Regions from separate parts of the Homo sapiens genome. Here region 1 is linked to region 2. The links come from fine-mapping of genetic effects on gene expression. A gene starts in region 2. The other region holds a variant in brackets. All regions are shown on one strand. Distances are between the middles of the regions. Region 1 overlaps PRXL2C (peroxiredoxin like 2C). Region 2 holds the start of ZNF510 (zinc finger protein 510).

Evidence for each region. PIP is the estimated chance that this variant, and not a neighbour inherited with it, causes the effect.
Region 1: its variant is the best candidate, but not a certain one, in a credible set for the expression of ZNF510 in lymphoblastoid cells (GEUVADIS, PIP 0.87).

What each region holds. Positions count from the first base shown.
Region 1 is chr9:96,640,666-96,649,637 of GRCh38, forward strand. PRXL2C (peroxiredoxin like 2C) reads right to left here. Exons shown (of 6, transcript NM_153698.2): 5 at 5,228-5,359; 6 at 1-1,221. The coding sequence ends at 1,094. Among named protein-coding and RNA genes, the nearest start is that of PRXL2C, 10 kb to the right of the region's middle. The variant T/C (reference allele first, on the strand shown) is at 3,803.
Region 2 is chr9:96,774,681-96,783,652 of GRCh38, forward strand. ZNF510 (zinc finger protein 510) reads right to left here and starts at 3,407. Exons shown (of 6, transcript NM_014930.3): 1 at 3,354-3,407; 2 at 1,320-1,565; 3 at 108-166. The coding sequence starts at 1,389. RefSeq lists a silencer at 3,168-3,267.

The sequences.
Region 1 (8,972 bases), 130 kb before region 2:
AATAAAAATACAAAAAATTAGCCGGGCGTGGTGGTGGGTGCCTGTAGTCCCAGCTACTCGGGAGGCTGAGGCAGGAGAATGGCGTGAACCCGGGAGGCGGAACTTGCAGTGAGCCGAGATCATGCCACTGCACTCCAGCCTGGGCAACAGAGTGAGACTCCATCTCAAAAAAAAAAAAAAAAAAAATTCTTATAGTTCCCTTTCAAAAAGCACACTGACCATATTTTTAAATACATATCTTAAATATCTAAAACAATTTTTTTCTCCATAGCTCCCCCAACCCCCCAAAATCCTAGTGAAACGGATAGCAAGTATGTAGTTTGAGAAGGTGCTGTGGACACTGGCTATATGTGAAATGTTCGGATTGCCACACTTCCTCTGAGTAAAGCAATTACGATGGAAAAGTGGACTACAGCTTATATAATTTTGCTCTTTTGTGAAGGTTGTTATGTGGCATAAAATTGTCCTATAATGTTTAAAGACCTTTTCCTGGCCCTACAATATTAATCATGCTCATTATATAACAGTTGGGAAATACAGAAAAGTACAGAAAAGAAAATAATAACACTAATCTTAACACAGAGATACCTACTGGCAACATTTTGGTGTTTATTTCCTGTCTTTTTCCAAAGCATACAAAAATACAAATATATACATATAAAAATGCAGTTACATTGTTGACAGATTTGATATTTTGCCTTCTTCACTGAATATAATGGTCTTGTGTTGTTCTCCTGTCCCCTTATATACTGTCAGAATTTATATTGCCAAAAAACTCTTTCATTGACTGAATATACCATAATGTAAAATAATTTAGAGTATTTATGATTTTATAGCTTTTAAAGTTATATTTTGTATATTCATTTTTTTTGTATAAAATGTTAAAAGTTATAAAATGGAAGTATATAACATATTTTGACAACTGATGCTTCCCAGCATGCAATTCAACAGGTTCAAGCCCCCTTTATGCTTCCCTAACTCCTCAAAGGCTGGGAAGGGACAGCAGGTTAGACACTGCACGAGGATATTACACCCAGGCATTGAAGGTCACATTCCAGAAGGTCCAGTTGAAAGTGACTGAGTGCATTTTAAGTCACACATGGATAACTGAAGGTCTGTTTGTAAAGTTCACATGCTGAACTCCTACAAGCTGTAAAACAGAGTTGATAGGTTTGTGATCCAACCTATTCCTATCGCGGTGTATAAAATGGATGTTGTTACCTAGAAGAGAATAAGAATAAAAGGCTGAGGCATAGTATTATTCATCAGATTTACTGCTTACTAAAATCAAGGAAGCTTTTCAACCTTTAATTAGTCCAAAGGGAAAAATTAATTACCTGGAGTGCATTATATTCTCTATATAATGCCATAATAATTTTAAATCATGGTAATAAAGTATGACAAGGATTATGGTTAAATAAGAGCCATACTTGATGTTTTATGAGATCCAAGGGGAAAGATTTTTAAATTATAACCTTCTGTTAGGTTTTATTAAATATAATTAAATAAAATGTCCTGTCAGACGGGCAGAATACGGAACTCACATAGATATCAAGCTGGAAAATCACATCTGTTTCTTAAATCTAATAATAGAATAAATATAATAAGGAAATAAATCACTCACTTCAAAAAATCCACTCCGAAATACTGATTTAACAGGCTATCTGTATTATAACCATAGCCCAAAAGAGGCTCTAAAATAAGGCCTTAAAAGACAATCAGTTATAATACACTTAGATGTTCACAATCCTTACATCTGTTCAAATACAGATTTTATAATTTATAATCATAAATTTACAATCTAGTTTCTGTTTGATTCTTGAACTCAAGACCAGAATTTTAACTTAAACCATTAGATTAAGTGTATGAGGCACGTTTTCATTTTTTTTTTTTTTTTTTGAGACGGAGGCTCGCTTTGTCGCCAGGCTGGAGTGCAGTGGCATGATCTCGGCTCACTGCAACCTCCGCCTTCTGGGTTCAAGCGATTCTCTTGCCTCAGCCTCCCGAGTAGCTGGGACTACAGGCTTGCACCACCACGCCCAGCTAATTTTTGTATTTTGAGTAGAGACGGGGTTTCACCAGATGGCCAGGATGGTCTTGATCTCCTGATCTTGTGATCCGCCCACCTCGGCCTCCCAAAGTGCTGGGATTACAGGTGTAAGCCACTGCACCCGGCCATGAGGCATGTTTTCTAAGCACAGCTGGTCTTCTGCATCCATGAGTTCCGCATCCTCATTCAACAAACCACGGATTGAAAATATTCAGAAAAAAAGGATAGCTGCATATCTGCTGAATATGTACAGACATTTTTTTTTCCTGGTCATTATTCCCTAAATAGTACAGTACAACAACTATTTACATTGCATTTGGTATTATAAGTAAACTAGAGATGATTTAAAGTGCAGGGGAGGACGTGCATAGGTTAGATCCAAATACTACAGCATTTTATGTGAGACACTTGAGCATCTCAGATTCTGGGATCCACTGCAGGTCCAGGAACCAATCCGCCATGGATGCTGAGGGATGACTGAATGGTCCCAAGTTGGCACACAAATGATGCTCTCCATGTGCTCTTTCTTCTTTACTTATTTATTTTTGGGGGCAGTGTCTTGGTCTCTCGCCCAGGCTGTAGTGCAGTGGTGTGATTTTGGCTCACTGCCAACCTCCACTTCCCAGGTTCAAGCGATTATCCTGCCTCAGCCTCCCTAGTAGCTGGAACTACAGGTGCATGCCACCATACCCGGCTAATTTTTTATATTTTTAGTAGAGATGGGGTTTCACCGTGTTAGTCAGGATTGTCTCGATCTCCCGACCTTGTGATCTGCTCACCTTGGGCTCCCAAAGTGTTGGGATTACAGGTGTGAGCCACTGCGCCCAGCCCATGTACTCTTTATTCTTACACAACAGAAGATGTGGACAAATGATTCAGAGACATGGAGATAAGGGACTCAAAAACATCCCCTTTTGGGTATGAGGATGGAAATAAGTTGTTCAGAAATATGGCTAATGTCATTCTGGGCTAATGCATAGGATTCATTCTCATTCATCAGGGCTTCTTTTTATAACGAATCTGTTATAAATTCATGAGAGGGAGGCAAAGGGAGATTTTGGCTACAATGTTCCAGCTGCAAAAAGCCCAAAAATCATATTACTCAGTCAAAACCCTCCTTCTAAAAAATATGGTATTGGCTGGGTGTGGTGGCTCACACCTGTAATCCCAGCACTTTGGGAGGCAGAGGTGGGCAGATCACGAAGTCAAGTAATTGAGACCATTCTGGCCAACCTGGTGAAACCTTGCCTCTACTAAAAATACAAAAATTAGCTGGGTGTGGTGGCAGGCGCCTGTAGTCCCAGCTACTAGGGAGACTGAGGCAGGAAAATCGCTTGATCCCGGGAGGCGGAGGTTGTAGTGAGCCGAGATTACACCACTGCACTCCAGCCTGGTGACAGAGCAAGGCTCTGTCTCAAAAAAAAAAAAAAAAAAAGGTATTTATCAAAGTAAATATTACTCATATAACTCTTATAAGCTATGCTCATTAAGCAGACAGTTTTAAAGAGGAAGAAAAAACAAAAAGATGGTCTTACAACATAGTGATTTAGGCTTTTGGGCCCTGTCTGATAAGGGTGTTTGTCCTTTGTTGCAATGCTGGAACACAGTAGAGATCTAATCAGTTACAATACACTTAGATGTCCACAATCCCTACATCTGTTCAAATACATCTGTTCAAACACTTAGCAGAGACGAGCCAAAGCAATCTCAGGTGGTCCACACCCATCAATAAAGTTAACAGTGTGTGGCTTA[T/C]AGTCGGACCTCAATCCCATTCTTTTTTATTTTTTGAGAGGGAGTTTCCTTCTTGTCACCCAGGCTGGAGTGCAGTGGCACGATCTGGGCTCACTGCAACCTCCGCCTCCCAGGTTCAAGTGATTCTCCTGCCTTAGCCTCCCAAGTAGGTGGGATTACAAGCATGCACCACCACGCCCGGCTAATTTTTTGTACTTTTAGTAGAGATGGGGTTTCACCAAGGGCTGGTCTGGAACTCCTGGCCTCAAGTGATCCACCAGTCTCAGCCTCCCAAAATGCTGGGATTATAGGTGTGAGCCACCATGCCCGGCCTCAATCCCAATCTTATGGGATGAGCTGTCCCTAGCACTGACTAACTTGCTGACACTGAGTAAGTCTCCTAGTTTTGTTAGGTATAAATAACTACATGGATTCTTTTTTTTTTTTTTTTTTTTTTTTTTTTTTTTTTTGAGGCAGAGTCTCACTCTCTCACCCAGGCTGGAGGGCTGGAGTTCAGTGGTGCGATCTCGGCGCACTGCAAGCTCCGCCTCCCAGGTTCACGCCAGTCTCCTGCCTCAGCCTCCCGAGTAGCTGGGACTACAGGCACCCGCCACCACGTCCGGCTAATTTTTTTTTGTATTTTTAGTAGAGACGGGGTTTCACCGTGTTAGCCAGGATGGTCTTGATCTCCTGACCTCGTGATCCGCCCGCCTTGGCCTCCCAAAGTGCTGGGATTACAGGCGTAAACCACCGCGCCCGGCTGGATTCTTTTCTTGAAAAAAAAGGCACGTGACGATTTTCCCCTATTCAGAAATGTTCATCTCCACTGAACATTCCTAAATAGCGGAGTGTGTGACAGCCATATACAGATCGCCAGCCCACAGGTGACTGTGGGAAATCATCTAGGCATGGGATGATGGGCACGCTCATCAAATACATAAACATCAAAATATACAGAAGCCTTTGAAAACAAAAGATGCCCCCCTACAAAAGCACAGCATCCTGGCTGTAATGCCAAGATGTCCATTTGTACAGGGTGTCTGCTTTATGAAGAAAATGGTGGCCTCTGGGTGGGGCGCGGTGGCTCATGCCTGTAATCCCAACACTTTGGGAGGCCGAGGTGGGTGGATCACGAGGTCAGGAGACCGAGACCATCCTGGCTAACACGGTGAAACCCCGTCTCTACTAAAAATTTAAAAAATTAGCCGGGCGTCGTGGCGGGCACCTGTAGTCCCAGCTACTCGGGAGGCTGAGGCAGGAGAATGGCGTGAACCCGGGAGGCAGAGCTTGCAGTGAGCCGAGATTGCGCCACTGCACTCCAGCCTTGGCGACAGAGCGAGACTCCCTCTCGAAAAAAAAAAAAAAGGAAAAGAAAAGAAAATGGCGGCCTCTGAACTTGTAAAAAGCACAAGACGTCTACTGCTGAACCTGGGCTTTGATGCTTACCTGGACCTAAAATGAGGGTTCCACCTTGCTGAGCTGGGTCTCCTTGAAAATCAAAGAGAGGGCCAGTCACTGCCCGCCACAGGCTCTGAAGGCTTCCTGAGAGTAGATTTGATTTTATGTGGGGGCTCTGTCCTGAAATGTCGAAAATTGTCTTTAGATGTCATTTTATATTCAATTTGATATTAAGAAGATAATGTATTTCTAGAAAACATTCTCTTTCTTCCTTTAAAGAATGGTTTCTCAATCTTTTACCATCAACATTTTGGCTCAGATCATTCTTTGTCCTGTGCGATATACGGTGTTTTGCAACATCCTTGCCTTCTATACCCACTAAATACCAGTGGCACCGTTTACCAAGTTGTAAAAACCAAAAATGTCTTCAGACAATGCCAAATGTCTCCCAAGGGAGAGAGGAGTAAATGTCCCAGTTAAGAACTACTGCTTTAAAGGAAACGTGATGACGGACCCACATCATTTTCTGCCACAGAAAAATGTCAACTATCGACTTCTCAAATTAGCAGTGCTTTCCATTTTAATTCCCCATTTATACTCTGTTTAGTCTCACTTATTAATAGGCAGCTACAGTCCTTTTCAAGAGACATTGTGACACAGACTGCTACGTGTTGGTCAAAACCTGTTTCCTCTTTCTGGGCCCACAGCTGAAGTATATTTTCCAGTCTTAGTTGCAGTTAGGCAAGGCATGTGACTATGTTATAAACAATGAATGAAATGATCTGTGCTGCTTCCAGGCCAAGCTCCTCCCACAAGTGATTCTCATATTCCTTCTACATTCTTGGAAGGCTTGGGTTGAAGGTGGCAAAGCACAAGATGGAGGGTGCCTGGATCCCGGAACTGCTGCTCAAGAGGAAAGGCATCCAAATAGAAAAACCGTTCTTGAAAAAAAATTTTTTTTTTGAGATGGAGTTTCACTCTCGTTGCCCAGGATGGAGTGCAATGGCGCAATCTTGGCTCACTGCAACCTCTGCCATCTGGATTCAAGCAATTCTCCTACCTCAGCCTCCCAAGTGGCTGGGATTACAGGCATGTGCCACCACGCCCGGCTAGTTTTCTATTTTTAGTACAGATGGGGTTTCTCCACGTTGGTCAGGCTGGTCTCAAACTCCTGACCTCAGGTGATCTGCCCGCCTTGGCCTCCCAAAGTGCTGGGATTACAAGCATAAGCCACCGCAGCCGGTCCCGTTCTTGAAATTTAAGATAAAAAGAAATAACCTCCTACCATGTCATGCTACTGAGACATGGGGGCTTAGCTGTGACAACAGCCACTGCAGCTACCTCTTCACTTCTCCTTGGCTGTCAGTTTTCTATTTCTGTTATCACAGTGGCTAATACTTAATTTCCACTTCATTGGAGCAAAGAGACTCAGTCTCTTTATTCTTCTTGTAATTAATTTTTCTCCTATCCTTGCCATGTATGTCTTACTTTTAACTTTTTATTTTAATGACTATGCAGCCTTTGGCCTGCCTAATTTCCGAATATTTCCAAACACCTATTATTTCTCCTCATCTCTTCAACTCTTTGATTTCTTTCATGTTTACATTATAATGAGCATTTATCTTACCAAGAAACAAATACAGGCTCACTAGCATAGAGACTTGAGTAAAAGATTAAGTTTTACTTTGTTTTTTAAGAGACAGGGTCATGCTCTGTTGCTCAGGCTGGAGTGCAGTGGCACAATCATAGCTCACTGCAGCCTCAAACTCCTGGGCTCAAGCGATCCTCCCCCGTCAGCTTCCTAAGTAGCTGCGACCACTGGTTCATGCCACCAATCCTGGCTAATTAAAAATTTTTTTTTGTTGTTGAGATGGGGTCTCACTTTGTTGCCCAGGCCGGTCTCAAATTCCTGGCCTCAAGTGATCCTCCCACCTCCGCCTCCCAAAGTGCTGGGATTACAAGTGTGAGCCACCATGCCTGGCCTTGAATTTTACTATCTTATAGGATTCTACATGTGAAATAAATGCTCAGAAATCCAAACTCTCTCCTTATTTTTTAAAATGCAAAAGAAAATTTTGAGACAGGGAGTCAATCCGTCACCCAGGCGGGAGTGCAGTGGCACGATCACTGCTCATTGCAGCCTCAACCTCCCAGGCTCCAATCGATTCTCCCACCTCAGCCTCCCGCATAGCAGGGAGTACAGGCATGCACCATGCCCAGCTAATTTTTGTATTTTTTTGTAGAGACAGGGTCTGGCCATGTTGCCCAGGCTGGTCTCGAACTCCTACACTCAAGAAGTCCTCCCACCTTGGCCTCCCAAAGTGCTAGGAATGCAGGTGTGAGCCACGACACCCAGCCCAAACTCTCTTCTTATGTCCAAAGAAGGGGTCAATTAATATTTCAGAAATTTTAGAAATTCAACTTGAGATTCCATAGCCTAGAACTAAGTAATCTTTGTTGTCAAGCACAATCTAGTTTTGCCAGTTTGAATTTACTTCTTTTGTGTCAAATTCCTGTTTTTCAGTCTTCTACAAACCCAGTACTCCCTTGTATGTAATGGCTTCATTTTCTTATTCTTCATCTTTATTAAAATAGGCACCATTAATTTTAAATTATAATTATATAATATATTTTTAGTGCCTTAGTTTTCAAGTAAGACTATTCTGAGACTGATTTTGAGATTTATGCTTTATGTTTTTTTTAGGGAGAAACCTCAAAAAAATTATTTTATGAGAACCTAATATTTTGTTTGGCAATGCAGTCCTTCAACACAGGTTGAAGTAGTGAAGATTTGAATACACCCTCTCTTATAATTACAAGCATATATTCAACTTAGTATTCATCTATTTAGTTTGCAATTCCATATCTTTATTGTGACAATGAATAGTGAGGTGTTACTAAAGTGAAACTCACAGTTTATATATAAAGTGCTAAATTTTTTTTTTTGAGACAGAGTTTCGCTCTTGTTGCCCAGGCTAGAGTGCAATGGCACAATCTTGGCTCACCACAACCTCTGCCTTCTGGGGTCAAGCAATTCTCCTGCCTCAGTCTCCCGAGTAGCTGGGATTACAGATGTGCACCACCACACCGGGCTAATTTCATATTTTTAGTAGAGACAGGGTTTCTCCATGTTGGTCAGGCTGGTCATGAACTCCTGACTTCAGGTGATCCACCCGCCTTGGCCTCCCAAAGTGCTGGGATTACAGGCGTGAGCCACCGCGCCCAGCCCTAAAGTGCTAAATAATTAAACAGACCTTACACATGTTGAGACTCTGTTACAGCACATGAAAACTGTGTACCAAAAAGTAAGGTTCACAATCTGTACTGCTATGATTTCCTATACTAAAGAGAGAGAAACAAGCAGACTCTATGTTTATGCCAGCTCATCATTAGTTCTGATCAAGTTTAGGTCTTTTTCTTTAAAAACATCTATAAAGGAGCCGGGTGCGGTGGCTCATGCCTGTAACCCCAGCACTTTGGGAGGCCGAGGTGGGTGGATCACCTGAGGTCGGGAGTTCAAGACCAGCCTGACCAACATGGAGAAACCCTATCTCTACTAAAAATACAAAATTAGCAGGGCATGGTGGTGCATGCCTGTAATCCCAGCTACCCCGGAGGCTGAGGCAGGAGAATCACTTGAACCCAGGAGGTGGAGGTTGCAGTGAGCCGAGATCACACCATCACACTCTAGCCTAGACAACAAGAGTGAAACTCTGTTTCAAAACAAAAAACAAAAAACAAAAAAAAACCCATCAATAAAGGGATCAGCAACTCTGCCTCACAAACAGCTCCC
Region 2 (8,972 bases):
TATATTCCTTGAATGATTTTGATCCATTTCTACATTTCCATATTAATATGTGGACCCTTAAACACCTATGAAATCCATGATGAAAAAGGTATTAGTAATTAACTCACCTGAGATATGTTCATTTTCTGCTGCTCCTGAAAGAGTGTGGAGAACCGTAAAGGATAACCTGGGGGTGAGGAAGGAGTCATGAGAGATCTGGGCAGCCTCCATCTTACCTGCCTACCAATGTCATCACACCAGCTGGGGAAAAAGGCCTCTCTACAAAAAATGTTCCTTTGACCTTTGAGAAGGGACAAGCAGCACTACAGAGAAAGCACCTCCTGAATATGTGCATCTTTAATATGATCATGTGGATGAACCCTTGCTGTGTGTGTGTGTTTTTTTGTTTTTTTTTTTTGAGACAGGATCTGGCTCTGTTGCCCAGGCTGGAGTGCAGCGGTGTGATCTCAGTTCACTGCAACTTCTGCCTCCTGGGTTCATGCAATTCTCCCGTCTCAGCCTCCTGAGTTGCTGGGACCAAAGGCACCCACCACTACACCCAGCTAATTTTTGTATTTTTTGTAGAAATGGGGTTTCACCATGTAGCTTAGGCTGGTCTCGAACTCCTGACCTCAAGCAATCTGCCCGCCTTGGCCTCCCAAAATGCTGGGATTGCAGGGGTGAGCCACCAGGCCTGGCCCCTTGCTGTTTTTCATCAGGCGATTGTAGACTATTTTCCTATTGATTTATTTAAAATGTATGTCTTCTTTGACTAACAACTTAAACAGAATTAACATTAATATTCTGTTAATATTATTTACACCAATAGAAAACACAAAACTGAAAAAAAGGAGATGCTGAAAGACTATTTTAAAATATTTTTGTTCTAACTTATAGTTTCTCAAAAGACTTTCGATAAGACACTTCTGGTGACTCACCTGTGACAGAGTGAACAGCACTGTGCTTTGCTCCAAGCTCTGTCCTGAGTGACCATGGACAAACTGTTCATCCTAGGTTCAATACTTTTTAAGGTTTTAAGAGTCAGAAATAGAAATCCTTTCCTGTATTATCATTTTTGTGATTCTACAGGTTCAGGATAGAGGCAACCTTAGTAAATTTCTAGATGCTACATGTGATGGATGTTGTGTGAGAGTGACTCAGAATCTGGAAAGAGTGAGGCAAGAATGAAGAAAATGGGGGCTCTATGAGGAGGATTAGAGACAATTTCCTCAGCCCTGGCTGGTTATGCCTTCCTTGGAGACCATGGAGAAAAGCCCTCCAGTAATGTGGCTTTTCCTGTGCAGTCTGACAGTCACCCACGCCTCTCAACCCCAGCTTACCACCTTCTGCAAGTTGGCCCACAGTGTTCAGTGTCACACAATCTGTGATGGCTTCTGGATGTGGCGACATCACCAAGTCTGGTGCTCTCTGGGCAAGGGGATGAAGAAGTGCCGCTGGTTGGGCAAATCAAGACCTGCTCCTTTCTGGGTTCTTCTGCATCTGTTTGGAAGCCCTGGTGAGGAGGTCTCTGTTCTGTCAGAGAGCAGTTCTTCGGTGGGACTCCTGTTCCTGGGGCTCCCTCCTTCCTGCAACATAAAGAGCTGCTTTGCTCCAGAGAAGCTGGGGCTGATGCCTGGGTAACAAATTTATTTTAGTTGAAACTTTCATGGAAAACAGTGTTCTTCACGTCAGCACAACTTCCATTTTGGGCTGGATAATCCTCTGACATAAGGAGTGGTCCTGTGCATTGCAGGATGTTTAAGAGCATTTCTAAACATGCACTAGACACTAGGACACCCCTTCTCCCTGTTGTGACAATCAGAAACGTCTCCAGGCCGGGCGTGGTGGCTCACGCCTGTAATCCCAGGACTGTGGGAGGCCAAGGCAGGTGGATCACCTGAGGTCAGGAGTTCAAGATAAGCCTGGCCAATATGGTGAAACCCCACCTCTACTAAAAATACAAAAAATTAGCTGGGCATGGCCATGCATGCTTGTAATTCCAGCTGAGATTACAAGCTGGGAGGCTGGGGCAGGAGAATCAGTTGAACCTGGGAGGTGGAGGTTGCAGTGAGCCAAGATCACACCACTGCCCTCCAGCCTGGGCGACAGAGAGAAACTCAGTCCCCTCTCCCCCCACCAAAAAAGTCTCCAACATTTCCAAAGTTCCCTAGGGAGCAAAATCCTCCTGGTGAAGAAGTGACCTAAGGCCTTAAACCTGATTCTCTTGGCATTAATTAGAACCCTGCTATCCATGACTACAGCCTCCAATCACATCAACTACTGAGCACTGGAAATGTGGCTAGGACCACATGTTGAAATAACATTTTGGATACACTGAGAAAACCACAGTATGTTCTTAAAATTAATTTCATGTTTTAGATTTTCATGTAGCTACTAGTTTAACATTTAAAATTACGTATGTGACTCATCTTCACTGCCCTAGAATATCAGACTGACTTCTAAAGACAGAGACAGGAGGGACAGCACAGGAGGTGGCAGGGGCCTCAGTCTAACCCAGAGGCTCTGGAGACATCCCAGAAACCCCACAACAAATACACTTGCCACATAGTAAGATTCTGTCCACACTGACTTCACAATCATTGTCCTGGGGTTTTGGGGACAATCACTCAGTGCTGTGAAGGCTGCAATGCTGGGTTAGGTAGGTAGGCCATTACAAACAGCCTGATTCGGGGAGTAAAGTGTTTATGTATTGACATCCTAGCTCTCTCATCCTTTGTGAGCTTGGCTCTATCTTTTCACTCCTCCTTCTTCATTTTTAATGATATAAATAGGGTGGTTGTGAGAATTAAACGAAATACTACATGAAAAGAACAAAGTGTCTTCCAAATATAACGGGAATCAACATTTACATGCTGCTTAGTAACTAGCGCTTAGCTAAATGCTTTACAGGGGATGGCTTACCTCTGAACGACACAAAGCAGTTTTTACTAATATCCTCATTTTCAAACGCTCAAGTGACAGAGCCAAAATTCACGAGGTCCTTCTAGCTCCTAGGCTCGGCCTCTCACCGCAGACCCACGGGCTGTACGCGCTTTGTGGCAGGTTCATGGTCAATACAATAAACGCGCATTCCCCTCCTGAAGCCAGCACCGCGTTTTCCGACGCCTGGCTGCATTCTGGCGCCCATACCTCGGCCCGCACCGAGCATCTTCCAACTAGGACTCAGCCCCACCTAACGCCCCCGGAGCCCGCCCCCACCGGCCCTTCTCAGGCTGAGGTCCCGGGCCGGCCGAGGCACAGGGAGCGACGGCCTGCTTTGGGGGAGTTCCCGGGACGTCGCGTTCCCGCCCCCTGGACACTAGCACATCCCTCCCTGCAGGTCCGCAATCCGCGTGGAGGCCCGGCGCTCTCACCTGAGCTGCGAACCCTCTGCACCAGCAAACACTAACAGGGAGAAGCCGGAAAGTGGGGTTGACTGCACATGCGCAGACGAAAACGCGCATATCCGTTCCCAGCATGCTGCGCGGTAACCCATAACATGCAAGACTACGTTTCACATGCAGTACGGCGCCAGCTGTCAGTGTTTTTTTGTTTGTTTTTCCCCCAAGATTTATGGCGTAATAACATGGACCGTCCTGATAACTGGAGCCCGGGTTCTGTCAGAGCCCCAGAGGTTGTGGGTTAGACTTGATGACATAACAGCAAATGCAGCGTGTGGTTACAGAAAGCAAGAGCCGCGGAAGACGTTTGAAAACAATTGGGAAAATTTGTATACGGACTGGAAATTAGAATTATTAATTAATTGTGGCAGCATTGGGATTATGTAGGTAATCTTGCTTATTCATAAAGAGATGTCTATGTAAGTATTTAGGATTGTATTATGTTTGTAAGTTTTTGGGTTTTTTGGTTTTTTTTTTTTTTTTTGAGACGGAGTCTTACTCTGTCGCCCAGGCTGGAGTGCAGTGGCGCGATCTCGGCTAACTGCAACCTCCGCCTCCCGGGTTCAAGCGATTCTCCTGCCTCAGCCTCCCAAGTAGCTGGGACTACAGGCGCCCGCCACTACGCCCAGCTAATTTTTGTATTTTTAGTAGAGACGGGGTTTCACCATGTTGGCCAGGCTGGTCTCGAACTCCTCACCTCAAGTGATCCGCCTGCCTTGGCCTCCCAAAGTGCTGGGTATACAGGCGTGAGCTACCACTCCCGGCCCGTTTGTAAGTTCTTTTTAAAAAATAATTAGAAATGGGAAGTATGGCAAAATGTTAAGAATATCTACTTCTAGAATATGGACATGCTTATTGACTATGTGTTGGAAAATTTTATAATATAAAGTTGATAAAGGGAAAATTGGGACTGTAATGTTACAAGTGTGCCTTTTAACTTAGAGCTGCCACAAAAATACATAAACAGCTTTGTGAATAAAGCCGTAAAATGTAACAAATACTAGAAAATGGAAACCATTATTAACATAAAAGAATAATATTTGTGATCCTCAGTTTATCTCTGGGGGGAAAAAAAGAAAAAGCAAGTAAGCTGTTCAGCATTACATAATACCTGAAGTACACACAATCCCAACTAAGAAAACCGTTATCCACAAATTATGCATCTCCTAGAGATGAGCTTGCTTAAATCTTATGTGGTATGCTTCTGAAATCAGGAACCAAATTAGGAACCTCTCAGCACAGTATTTTATGACACTCTTTTTAGTAACACACATACACTCACACACACACGGTTGATACTTTCTAACAGGTTATTTTATATGGCAATGATAAGTTTTGATTAGCAAGAAAAAAGATTAATGGCAACAGTAAACTAGTGCAGTATATATGAATCAAGGTATAAAATTTTACTGTTGACACTGAAAAACACTTTAATAGATACTGGAGGAAAAGACTAACATTTGTTTTTAAAAATTCTAATCATCTATGTTTTCTAAGTATATATTTTCTTTTTTTGACATTTATATATTTTGCCTGTTTTCCTAAAGGAACTATTCCAATTTTCATTCTAATAAAAACTTATGGTAATGATCAGAAAAGAATTGAAAATGCATAGCAATATCTCTATATTTACTATGTATACTATCACTAAATATTTAAAAATTTATCCTGGTGCAGTAAAAGTTCAACTATATGAAAAAGAAAGAATGTAGTATGTATCAGCTGGCTTTTAAAGCAGTGGAAAGAGAACCTTCAGTAACCTTGTTAGGACAATGAGATAGGTGCTGGGACAAAGGACATATCCATGGCACTAACATTACAATCAATAATTTTCACAAGGATTCATTCAACAATAAGCAATTAATAATATCAAAGTTTTAAATTTTTAAATTATACATTTCTTAAGTTTTTAAGAGAAACAGGTGTTTTAAAAAGATAAACCCTTTAATTCCTTTCCAAGGAAAGTCTCGCCCTTCACATCTGTCTGAAGGCTGAGACCTTGCCTGGTGCCCAAAGAGCTGCTCTCCGCCAACTTCCAAGTTCGGCGCTGTGTGTGTAGATGCAGCACCACCGCAGCTGATAAATATTTGCAGTGAGGTTTGGTTTGTTTGTTTGTTTTTGAGACCGGGTCTCACTATGTCACCGAGGCTGGAGTGAAGTGGTGCGATCACGGCTTATTGCAGCCTGGACTTCCTAGGCTCAAGTGATCCTCCCACCTCAGCTTCCCAAGTAGCTAAGTTTTGGACCTCCCTCCCTCCCTTCCTCCCTCCCTCCCTCCCTTCCTCCCTCCCTTCCTTTCCCTTTTTCTTTCTCTTTCTTTGTTTTTGTCCATGTTGGTCTCAAACTCTTGGGCTCAGGCGATCCACCCACCTTTGCCTCTCAAAGTGCTGGGACTACAGACGCGAGCCACCATGACTGGCCTGCAGTGAGATATTTTGAGGCTATAAAACATCATGTTTCTCTTAAAGTATCACTCACTAATTTAGTAGTGTTTCTTCATTCACCTGTTGAAGGGCAGCTGGTGGTTTCCAGTTTTTGACAATTATGAATAACCCTGTAATGTAAGATTCACACGCAGGTTTTTGTATAAAAATAAAATTTCAATTCACTTTAAAAAATCCTTTCTTCTTTGTGTTGCCTGGTCTGTCTATTCTTTTGCAGATATATTGTTTGGATTACTCTAATTTTATAGAAAGCCTTGAAATCTCATAATGTAAATTCTCCAATTTTTTCTTTTTAAGAATTATTTTGGCTATTCTAGTTTCTTTGCCTTTCCATGGAAATTTTAGAATCAGCCTGTTGACATCTACAAAAAGATTGCTGAGATTTGGGAGAGCTGGCATCTTAACAATATTGAGTCTCTCAATGAGTGAAATTGGTGTACTTTGGGTGGAGTCGTTCACACCTGTAATCCCAGCACTTTGCGAGGCTGAGGCAGGCAGATCACTTGAGGTCAAGAGTTTAAGACCAGCCTGGCCAACATGGTGAAACCCCATCTCTACTAAAAATACAAAAAATAGCCGGGCATTGTGGCACGTGCCTGTAATCTCAGCTACTCAGGAGGCTGAGGCAGGAGAATTGCTTGAACCCAGGAGGTGGAGGTTGCAGTGAGCCAAGATCGGGCCACTGTACCCTAGCCAGGGCAACAGAGCAAGACTCCACCTCAAAAAAAAAAAAAAAGAAAAAAAAAGAAAATGGGATATTTTACGTGAATCTTTCTTTCCTTTCAGCTGTGTTTTGTAGTTTTCAGTATATATATATATATATATATATATATATATATATATAGATCCTGCACACATTTTGATACATTTGTACAGAGGTGTACCTTTCTTTTTTCCTTCTTTCTTCCTTTCTTCTGTTTTAAATAGATTTTTTTAAAATGTCACATTCCAGTTGTTCACTGTTGGTATACAGGGATAAGATGACTTTTGTATATTGACATTTATCCTGAAAACGTGCTAAACTTGCTTATTAATTAAATAAGTTTTTTTGGTATATTGTTTGAAATGTTCTACATATATAGTCATTTTGTCTGCAAATAGTGACCATTTGTTTCTTCCTTTTCAGACTGTATGACTTTTCTTTCTTTTTGTTCCTTTATTTCACTGGCCAAGACTTGTAGGATGATGTTGAATAGGAGTACTGAGAGAGCATTGTTATCTTAATCTGTTTTCCAAGACGGCATCTTGAATGCTGCATCCTTGGGGGATGGGGTGAGGTGAGGAACAGAATGCTCTTCCTCACATGGCAGAAGAGAGAAAGGGGCAAGAGAGGGCCAAACTTGCCCTTTTATAATAGCACCAATCCTACCCATGAAGGTGACGCCCTCGTGGCCTAATCATCTCTTAAAGTTGAAAATGCATAGCAATCTCTCTTAAAACTGTTACAATGGCAATTAACTTTTCATTTGAATTATGGAGGGGGACAAACATTAAAACCATAGCAGTTGCCTTATTCAGATCATTAAGTGTGATGTTAGCTAAAAGTTTTTGTAAATACCCTACATTAGAAGTTTCTTCTATTCTTAATTAGCTAAGAGATTTTACAACAAATATATGTTGAATTGTGTCAGATACCTGTCCTGCATCTATTGATATGGTCCTGCATCTATTGATATGATCATATGGCTATTTTTATTTAGTCTGTCAATATTGTGAATTACATTCATTGATTAAAAATTTTTTTCTTGTAAAATACACAAAACATAAAGCTTACAATTTTAAACACTTTTGAGTGTACAATTCAGTGGTAAAAAGCCTATTCACATTGTTGTGCAACTGTTAACACTTTCTGTCCCCAGAGCCTTTCATCACCCCAAACTGAAACTTCACACTCACTCAACAACTCTCCACTCCTGCCTCTCCTAGCACCTCTGTAACCACTATTCTACTTACTTTCATTATGAATTGTAGGTACCTCATTTAAGAGGAATCATAAAATATTTGTCATTTTGTGTCTAGCTTATTTCACTTAGCAAATGTCCTGAAGGTTCATCCATGTTGTTACATATATTGGAATTTCATTTTGTTTGAAGGCTGAATAATATTCCATTATATGTATACATCATATTTTGTTTATCCATTCATCTGTCAGTGAACATTTGGGTCATTTCCATTTTTGGCTATTATTAGTAATGCTATCATGAACATTGGCGTAAAAATATTTGTTTGAGTCCCTGTGTATTAGTCTGTCTTTAGACTGCTATAAAGAAATACCCAAGACTGGGTAATTTACAGAGGAAAGAGGTTTATTTGGCTCACAGTTCCACATGGCTAGGAGGCCTCAGGAACAATCATGGTGGAAGGTGAGGGGGAAGCAAGGACCTTATTCATATGGCGGCAGGAGAGAGAAGAGCACAGGAAAAGCTATCATTTATAAGACCATCAGATCTCCTGAGAATACTCACTATCACAAGAACAGCATGGGGGAAACCTCCCCCATAGTTCAATCACTTGCCACCAGGTATCTCCCTCAACACCTGGGGATTACAATTCAAGATGAGATTTGGGTGGGGACACAAAGCCTAACCATATCATGCTGCTTTCAGTTATTTCTGGTATATACCTAGAAGTGGCATTGCTGGATCTTGTGGTAATTCTATTAATTTTTTGAGAAAACACTGTACTGTTTATCACAATGGCTACACCATTTTACCTTCCCACCAGCAGTGCAAAACAGTTCCAATTTCTACACATCTTCATCAACTTATTTTCTGTTTATAATGAACTTTTATGACAGCTTTTCTAATGGGTGCAAAGTTGTGTCTTGTGGCTTTGATTTGCATTTTCTTAATGATTAGTGATGTTTTAAAATACAGTGTATTAATGGAAAATTTGAGATATAGTAAGGCCAATAGATTAGGACACAACAGCCACTGGAAAGAAAAAGGGGTATACCACACCATGGGGTCCACACAGGGAAGCACCAAAATCAGCCAAGAGGCAGAGGGAGAGAAGAGAACTATCGGTACGAGCCTTTACCGTGGTTCATTTGGGAAGGAATGGGCAAGACATGGTAATCAGGCTTAGGACTGGCTAGTTTGAATCATTTCAGCAGGCTTTGGGACAGAGGGACTTCCGCTAGTTTTCT